Linked DNA regions of Homo sapiens: regions 1 and 3 are each linked to region 2. Evidence: fine-mapped expression QTL. A gene starts in region 2. Each other region holds a variant in brackets. All regions are shown on one strand. Distances are between the middles of the regions.

What was found. PIP is the estimated chance that this variant, and not a neighbour inherited with it, causes the effect.
Region 1: its variant is the best candidate, but not a certain one, in a credible set for the expression of KRT8 in whole blood (INTERVAL, PIP 0.65).
Region 3: its variant is the best candidate, but not a certain one, in a credible set for the expression of KRT8 in whole blood (TOPMed, PIP 0.89).

Annotation. Positions count from the first base shown.
Region 1 is chr12:52,866,134-52,868,813 of GRCh38, reverse strand. No RefSeq gene overlaps it. Among named protein-coding and RNA genes, the nearest start is that of KRT78, 18 kb to the right of the region's middle. The variant G/A (reference allele first, on the strand shown) is at 1,382.
Region 2 is chr12:52,903,509-52,906,167 of GRCh38, reverse strand. It overlaps KRT8 (keratin 8), which reads left to right and starts at 1,092. Exons shown (of 8, transcript NM_002273.4): 1 at 1,092-1,510. The coding sequence starts at 1,187. RefSeq lists a silencer at 2,152-2,321.
Region 3 is chr12:52,953,040-52,955,719 of GRCh38, reverse strand. No RefSeq gene overlaps it. Among named protein-coding and RNA genes, the nearest start is that of KRT18, 5.3 kb to the right of the region's middle. The variant A/T (reference allele first, on the strand shown) is at 1,541.

The sequences.
Region 1 (2,680 bases), 37 kb after region 2:
GCTATTCCAGCTGGAGAACAGACAGATGCAGGCATAGACCTGAGAAATGCTTTACAGATAGTCCTGGGTTCAGATTCTCACTCTGCCACTATTGGTTGTGTGATCTAGGACAACCAAGCCTCAGTTTCCCCATCTATAATATGCGATTAATCAGAGGTATGCTATGTAAAGCACCTGGCATGTAGTAGTTGAACATTAAGTGATAATTCTACTTCTTTTTTTTTTTTTTTTTTTTTTGAGACAGGGTCTCCCTCAGTCTCCCAGGCTGAGTGCAGTGCAGTGGTGCGATCATGGCTTACTGCAGCCTCAAACACTTGGGTTCAAGTGATCCTCCTGCCTCAGCCTTCCAAGTAGCTAGGACTATAGGCATGAGTCACTACATCCAGCAAATTTCCTTTTTTTTTTTTTTTTGTAGAGACGTGGGGGTCTCACTTTGTTGCCCAGGCTGGTCTTGAATGCCTGGGCTCAAGTAGATTCACCTGCCCTGGTCTCCCAAAGTGCTGGGATTACTGGCGTAAGCCACTGCACCTGGCCTAATTATTCTTGATACATATAATACTACTGACAACTGAGACAACTTCCTGGAAGAATGGTCTTCTTTGGGACCCTTGAATGAAAGGAAGGGACATTCTTGACATTCAAACCCTGCCTCTAAGTGACCCTTTCCTCCTGAGATGCCCTCCCCACCCAGCCCTCTTTCCTGATTTTGTCTTCTTGAAGAGATGCGGGGTGGGGTGGAGTGCCTGCCTCCCGGGAAGGGGGTTGGTTGTGTGTTCTGAAGCTGCCACCCCCTACCCCCCACCTCTCAGTTCCCCCTGGCAGGGAGTGGCCTGCTTGCCCTAGGGTAGTGCCTGCCTGGGCAGGTAGCAAAGTGCTCCCAAAGCCTGGAGAGGGGCTTAAACTTCTGTTGGTGGTTGGGAGCTGCCCTGGGCACCCTGAGTGGCTGGGGAGAGCACGTGGGCCCAAGCGGGGAGGGAGAAATGGGGGGCGTGGCGTGCGTTCTGCTGGCATAGAGCATTCCCTGGCAGGGGTGGGGGTGCAGGGCGGGGGTGGCTGGTGCTGGTTTCCTTCCTTAGTTTCGATCAGAGGGGCGGGTTTAAGGCTGAGCTTGGTTGAGCTAGCAGCTCTTCTTCAGGAAATCTGAAAGCTTTGAAAGAGAAAAATATCGTTTGTTCCAGAGTCAGGAACACTGTTCTCTCAGCCTGGGGTACTTTTGTCTCTGTTGAAGCCCCCTTACCAAGAGATATGTGTTTGGGGTGGAGGTGGGGAAGGTGAACATTCACACACAACCTTCACACACCCGCACCTGCACATTTATAACACACCCCCATACACACATGCCTAGCTTCTGTCTTTCTCACACATACCCTTGCACACTGAT[G/A]CATGCAAGCATCCACTATACCCATCCCAGAAGGTACACATTCCCACCCCACCCTTCCACATACACCGATGCCTGGCGCACTCACACATAACTGTGTCACTTTCATAGCCCCTGTGATTTTACTGGCCCGCACATGCCCCTGCATGATCATAGATGATCTCTGCACCTTCGCACTCATGCTCCCCCCCCATTTATTTACACACATCTTACAAGCTCCCTGTATACCCTTGTCCCTACACATTTTCTTTCTTTCTCTCTGTCTCTTCCCCTCTCATCTCAGGGAGCCAGAAGGGATGGTTGTCCTCAGATGACAGTGAGAGCAAGAGGAGATCCAGGCAAGTCAGCATCTAGTAGGCCAAGCCTGGTGGGGAGTGGGGCTCAGAAGATAGTAATGATAATAATGATAATAATAATAAAATCGAGGCCGGGCGCGGTGGATCATGCCTGTAATCCCAGCACTTTGGGAGGCCAAGGCAGACAGATCACGAGGTCAGGAGATCGAGACCATCCTGGCTAACACGGTGAAACCCTGTCTCTACTACAAATACAAAAAATTAGCTGGGCCTGGTGGCGGGCGCCCGTAGTCCCAGCTACTCTGGAGGCTGAGGCAGGAGAATGGCATGAACCTGGGAGGCGGAGCTTGCAGTGAGCCGAGATAGCACCACTGCACTCCAGCCTGGGTGACAGAGCGAGACTCTGTCTCAAAAAAAAAAAAAAAAAAAAATCGAATAGTTGGTGGGCACTGCTGTGCTAAGCACTGTTCTGAGCACTCTGCACGTGTCATCTTGGTTAACACACACAACAGCCCTAGGATATAGGAATGATTATCCCTCCTTATTTATTTATTTATTTTTGAGACAGAGTTTCGCTCTTGTCGCCCAGGCTGGAGTGCAATGGCGTGATCTCAGCTCACCGCAATCTCTGCTTCCCGGGTTCAAGTGATTCTCCTGTCTCAGCCTCCGGAGTAGCTGGGATTACAGGCATGTACCACCATGCCTGGCTAATTTTGTATTTTTAGTAGAGATGGGGTTTCTCCATGTTGGTCAGGCTGGTCTCGAACTTCTGACCTCAGGTGATCCACCCGCCTCAGCTTTCCAAAGTGCTGGGATTACAGGCATGAGCCACCACGCCCGGATTTTTTGTTTTTCTTTTAGACTGAGTCTTGCTCTGTCACCCAGGTTGGAGTGCAGTGGGGCGATCTTGGCTCACTGCAACCCGAGCCTCCCAGGTTCAAGTGATTCTTGTGCCTCAGTCTCCTGAATAGCTGGGGTTACAGGTGCCTGCCACCACGCCTGGCTA
Region 2 (2,659 bases):
GGGGATCCTAGGATCTTGGAAGGAGAGGAAGCCCCTGGGTTATGTTCAGGAAAAGTGCTGTGTTGGATCTCGCTCTTTTTTTTCTTTGAGATGGAATCTCGCTCTGTCGCCCAGGCTGGAGTGCAGTGGCACGATCTCAGCTCACTGCAACCTCTGCCTCCCGGGTTCAAGTGATTCTCCTGCCTCAGCCTCCTGAGTAGCTGGGATTACACCATGGCCAGCTAATTTTTGTATTTTTAGTAGAGATGGGGTTTCACCATGTTGGTCAGGCTTGTCTTGAACTCCTGACCTCGTGATCCGCCTACCTCAGCCTCCCAAAGTGCTGGGATTACAGGCGTGAGCCACCGTGCCTGGCCTTGGATCTCTTTTTATCTTGCACCTTCAGATGTAGAGGGACGACAGCCACTGTGTGTGTATGTGTATGTGTGTGTGTGTGTGTGTGTGTGCGCGTGTGATGTTTATTCACTCATTTATTTATTCATTCATTCATTCCACAAATATCTACCCAGACCCTCTTGGCACTGCACCAGGTGCTAGGGGTAGAACAGTAACCTGGAAAGATGAGGCAAATGGTTGATTTCAGATTCAAGGCTTTGGACTCCAGCTGTTCTGTCATCCAGCTCAGGCAGGCCCTCATAATCGCTTCAATCAGGGAGAACACAGGAGAGTTTCTCTGGGGTGTCGGCAGCTCAGAGGAGACCCAAATACTAGGAGACCCCTTTTTCCCATGCTTCCCAGTCCTCCAGTTTATTTCCCCCAGGAGGGAGGGAGACAAGACCCAGGAGTCAGGGTTGTAGTGGCTGGGCGGCCCAGGCAAGTCTGCTTGTTACAGGCACTTGTGCCAGGACAGGATTTCTTCCAGTTTCATATTCACTGAACTGCCTTTTCCTGGGTTTCTGGGGGTGGTGCTGGAGTGGGCTCCAGGGTTGGAACGGGCCCTTGGGTGGCGGCAGCTCTCTGCTGCCCCCACCTGAGTCCTGCCCGGAGGTGGCAGGTGACGGGTTAGGCCCAGCCCCCTCTGGGCCTAGCCACTCAGGTACGAGGCCTTTCCCCCCCATCCCCCGGGGCTGGGATCTCTTTTATAAAAGGCCATTCCTGAGAGCTCTCCTCACCAAGAAGCAGCTTCTCCGCTCCTTCTAGGATCTCCGCCTGGTTCGGCCCGCCTGCCTCCACTCCTGCCTCTACCATGTCCATCAGGGTGACCCAGAAGTCCTACAAGGTGTCCACCTCTGGCCCCCGGGCCTTCAGCAGCCGCTCCTACACGAGTGGGCCCGGTTCCCGCATCAGCTCCTCGAGCTTCTCCCGAGTGGGCAGCAGCAACTTTCGCGGTGGCCTGGGCGGCGGCTATGGTGGGGCCAGCGGCATGGGAGGCATCACCGCAGTTACGGTCAACCAGAGCCTGCTGAGCCCCCTTGTCCTGGAGGTGGACCCCAACATCCAGGCCGTGCGCACCCAGGAGAAGGAGCAGATCAAGACCCTCAACAACAAGTTTGCCTCCTTCATAGACAAGGTGAGGGTCCCCCCTGCGTGGCTGACTGTGCCCGCAGCCCCTTTCTCCTGGTAGTCCCGGTCCCTATGCACATCTCCAGCCCCCAGCTGGCGTCCTGCTGGGCCTCACCCGCCCTGGCGACACTCTCCCTTCCATCCTCCGACTCACCCCTCCCGTGCACCTTGGTTTGGGCTGGGTGAGGGTGGGGAGAGGGTCTGGACAGCCGGGATGAATCCTGGGGCTTCCTTCTTCCCTTTTAAACTGGAGGGTCTTGGAAGAGAGAGACAACTTAAGGGTACAGCCTAGTTCCCACCACCCCTCTCTACAAATCCCGTTCTTCCTCAGGTCATTCTGTCCCCAAATTATAAAAAATAATAGCGGTTATTGTTCTCACCCCAACCCGAGTTCTGACCGTCTTTTAAGCTATCGCCCTGCGGCAGTCCCAGCTGTTCGGGGACTACCCTCCTCCAGGTTCGCCTCTTCGCCAGCACTACCCCAAGGGCTCCCCAGTGGTGCCTTTGTGATTTTTTTTCTTTCTTTTCTTTTTTTTACATAGGGGTTTGGTGTGATTCTAGCATTCTAGGAGAAGGAAGTGGGTGTCTCGGTTCAAACGGGCAAATATTGATTGAGGCCTTTGGCGCCCGGAGGCCTGAGTGCGGGGGTCACAGAATGAGTCATACCCCGGCCCCTGCGCCGGCAGCGTGGGCGGGGCCGAGGGCGGGGTGAGGGGCTGCGGGCAGCAGTCTCGGGACGCTCTCCTCCACCTGGCGGAGCTCGGCGTCGGGGGCGGTGTGGGTGGGGTGGGGTGGGGTGGGGTGGGCTGGGGTGGGGTGGAGGAGGCGCCAGGGCCTGGCCTCGGAAAGCCCATGCAGGATTCAAAGTCTGCGGGCGTGGGACGCCCCGCCCGGGGTTTACGTCCTGTTAAGTTTATGGCTTCAGATAACGCGGTCGCCCACCAACGCCCCTCGCCCATTCAGCCCGTGTCCCTTTCTCGCGTCCTGTCCCTGCTCCGCCCCAGCGGCCTGGCTCCACTTTCACACAGCAGGAGCCAGGCCGGGTTTTGCAGCCCTGGGACTCCGCTGCCTGAGGGGCCCCGGGCCCCCGGCGGCCCCGAGGATTGGGCCCTTCACGCTGACTGGCTCCTGGGAGGCATTGTGGGAACGGGAGGAG
Region 3 (2,680 bases), 50 kb before region 2:
ATCGCTTGAACCCGGGAAGCAGAGGTGGCAGTGAGCCGTGATGGTGCCACTGCACTCCAGCCTGGGCGACAGAGTGAGACTCTGTCTCAATTAAAAAAAAATAAAAAAAGAAATCAAGATGCAGAGCTGGATAATTTTACATATATAAAACATAATGAAATGTGCTTGTATATGTCTAATTTTAAAAGGTATTTAACAGTGGTTACTTCTAGGGAGTGGAGAGGGGAGATTTTATTTTATTTAGTTTTATTTATTTATTTATTTGAGATGGAGTCTTGTTCTGTCACCCAGGCTGAAGTACAGTGGCGCGATCTTCACTCACTGCAACCTCTGCCTGCTGGGTTCAAGCAAATCTCCTGCCTCAGCCTCCCAAGTAGCTGGGACTACAGGTGTATGCCACTACGCATGGCTATTTTTTTTTTTTTTTTTTTTGAGACAGAGTCTTGCTCTGTTGCCAGGCTGGAGTGCAGTGGCTCGATCTCGTCTCACTGCAACCTCCAACTCCTTGGTTCAAGCGATTCTCCTGCCTCAGTCTCCCAAGTAGATAGGATTACAATCATGCGCCATCACGCCTGGCTAATTTTGTATTTTTAGTAGAGACAGAGTTTCTCCACTCCCAACCTCAGATGATCCACCCACCTTGGCCTCCCAAAGTGCTGGGATTACAGGCATGAGCCACCATGCCCAGCAAGATTTTAAATTTTATTTCATATATATGTGTGTGTGTGTGTATGTGTGTATGTATATATATATATATATGTATGTATATATGTATATATATACATACACACATATACACACACATATATGCACATATGTATATACACATATACACATATATACACATATACTCATATATACACATATACTCATATATACATATATACACACATATATACATACACACACATATATATATTATATATATATATTTTTTTGAGACAGAGTTTCGCTCTTGTTGCCCAGGCTGGAGTGCAATGGCATGATCTCGGCTTATTGCAACCTCCACCTCCTGGGTTCAAGCGATTCTCCTGCCTCAACTTCCCAAGTAGCTGGGATTATAGGCATGTGCCACCACACCCAGCTAATTTTGTATTTTTAGTAGAGACAGGGTTTCACCATGTTGGCCAGGCTGGTCTCGAACTCCTGACCTCAAGTTATCCGCCCGCCTTGGCCTCCCAAAGTGCTGGGATAACAGGCATGAGCCACCACACCCAGCTGCCTGGCTAATTTTTTGTACTTTTAATAGAGACAGAGTTTCACCATGTTAGCCAGGATGGCCTCAATCTCCTGACATTGTGATCTGCCCGCCTCGGCCTCCCAAATTGCTGGGATTACAGGCGTGAGCCACTGTGCCCGGCCAGCTTTTTTTTGTGAAACAGAGTCACACTCTGTTACCTAGGCTGAAATGCAGTGGCATGATCACAGCTTACTGCAACCTTTACTTCCTGGACTCAAGCAATCCTTCCACCTCAGCCTCCTGATTAAGTGGGACTACAGGTACATGTCACCATGCCTGGCTAATTTTTAAATTAAAAAA[A/T]TTTTTTTTGCCTTAACCCAACATTTTAAAAATTAACCTAGGCCGGGCGTGGTGACTCACACCTGTAATCCAGCATTTTGGGAGGCCGAGGCGGGCGGATCACGAGGTCAGGAGTTCGAGACCAGCCTGGCCAACAAGGTGACACCCCGTCTCTACTAAAAATACAAAAATTAGCCAGGCATGGTGGCGGGCCCCTGAAATCCCAGCTACTCAGGAGGCTGAGGCAGAAGAATCCCTCGAACCCAGGAGGCAGTTGCAGTGAGCCCGGATCGCGCCACTGCACTCCAGCCTGGGTGACAGAGCAAGACTCTGCCTCAAAAAAAAAAAAAAAAAAAAAAAAAATTAACCTAACCTAGGTCTTTGAGTGATGGGTGCCTTGATCTTTAGTAGTTTTGTTTTGGCAAAACTGCTGCAACGAATATCTACATGTAATCATGTTGGGTTAGGGCATTTTCACACAAGTATGAAAACAGCCAAGGAAGACACAAAGTGGCATCCAATCACTCCAAAGGGTACAAGCGGGAGGATCACTTGAGGCCAGGAGTTCCAGACCAGCCTGGGCAATATAGTGAAATCCCAACTCTATGAAAAATTCAAAAATTAGCCGGGTGTGGTGGCACTGCTGGGATTACGGATGTGAGCCACTGTGCCCAGCCTCGGTTAGTTTTAAGATGCCCATCCTTACCTATACGGGTGCTTACTCAGGGGCACCTCTTTCCTAGATGGGAACTTCCATGATCATTTACTCAACTTCTAGCCAGACCTCTAGCACCCTAAAAATCATATCTCCGTTGAGTGAATGAACAGAGTTGAGGGCACCATAGGTTTGGAGGATGAGTATGGCCTGGGGTTGGAGGAAAAAACTGTGGGTGGGAAGCCCTGGGCAGTGGGCCAAGGGCATAAAGCAGCAGGGTAGGGGAGGGCCAGATGTGTCTCCCTGTCTCCTCTGTCCTCTGTCTTTGGCCTAATTTCCTCCTCTGGTTCAGATTTCTGCTAATGATCAGTCAGGGACCTTTTGAACACCAGATCGCTTCAAGGCAAAGATTCCACAATTCCCTTGTAGGGATCCCCACAGCCTGTGACCCATCACATCTACTGCTCCCTCCTCTGTCTCTCAGAAGTGTTTCCAAGAATACAGAT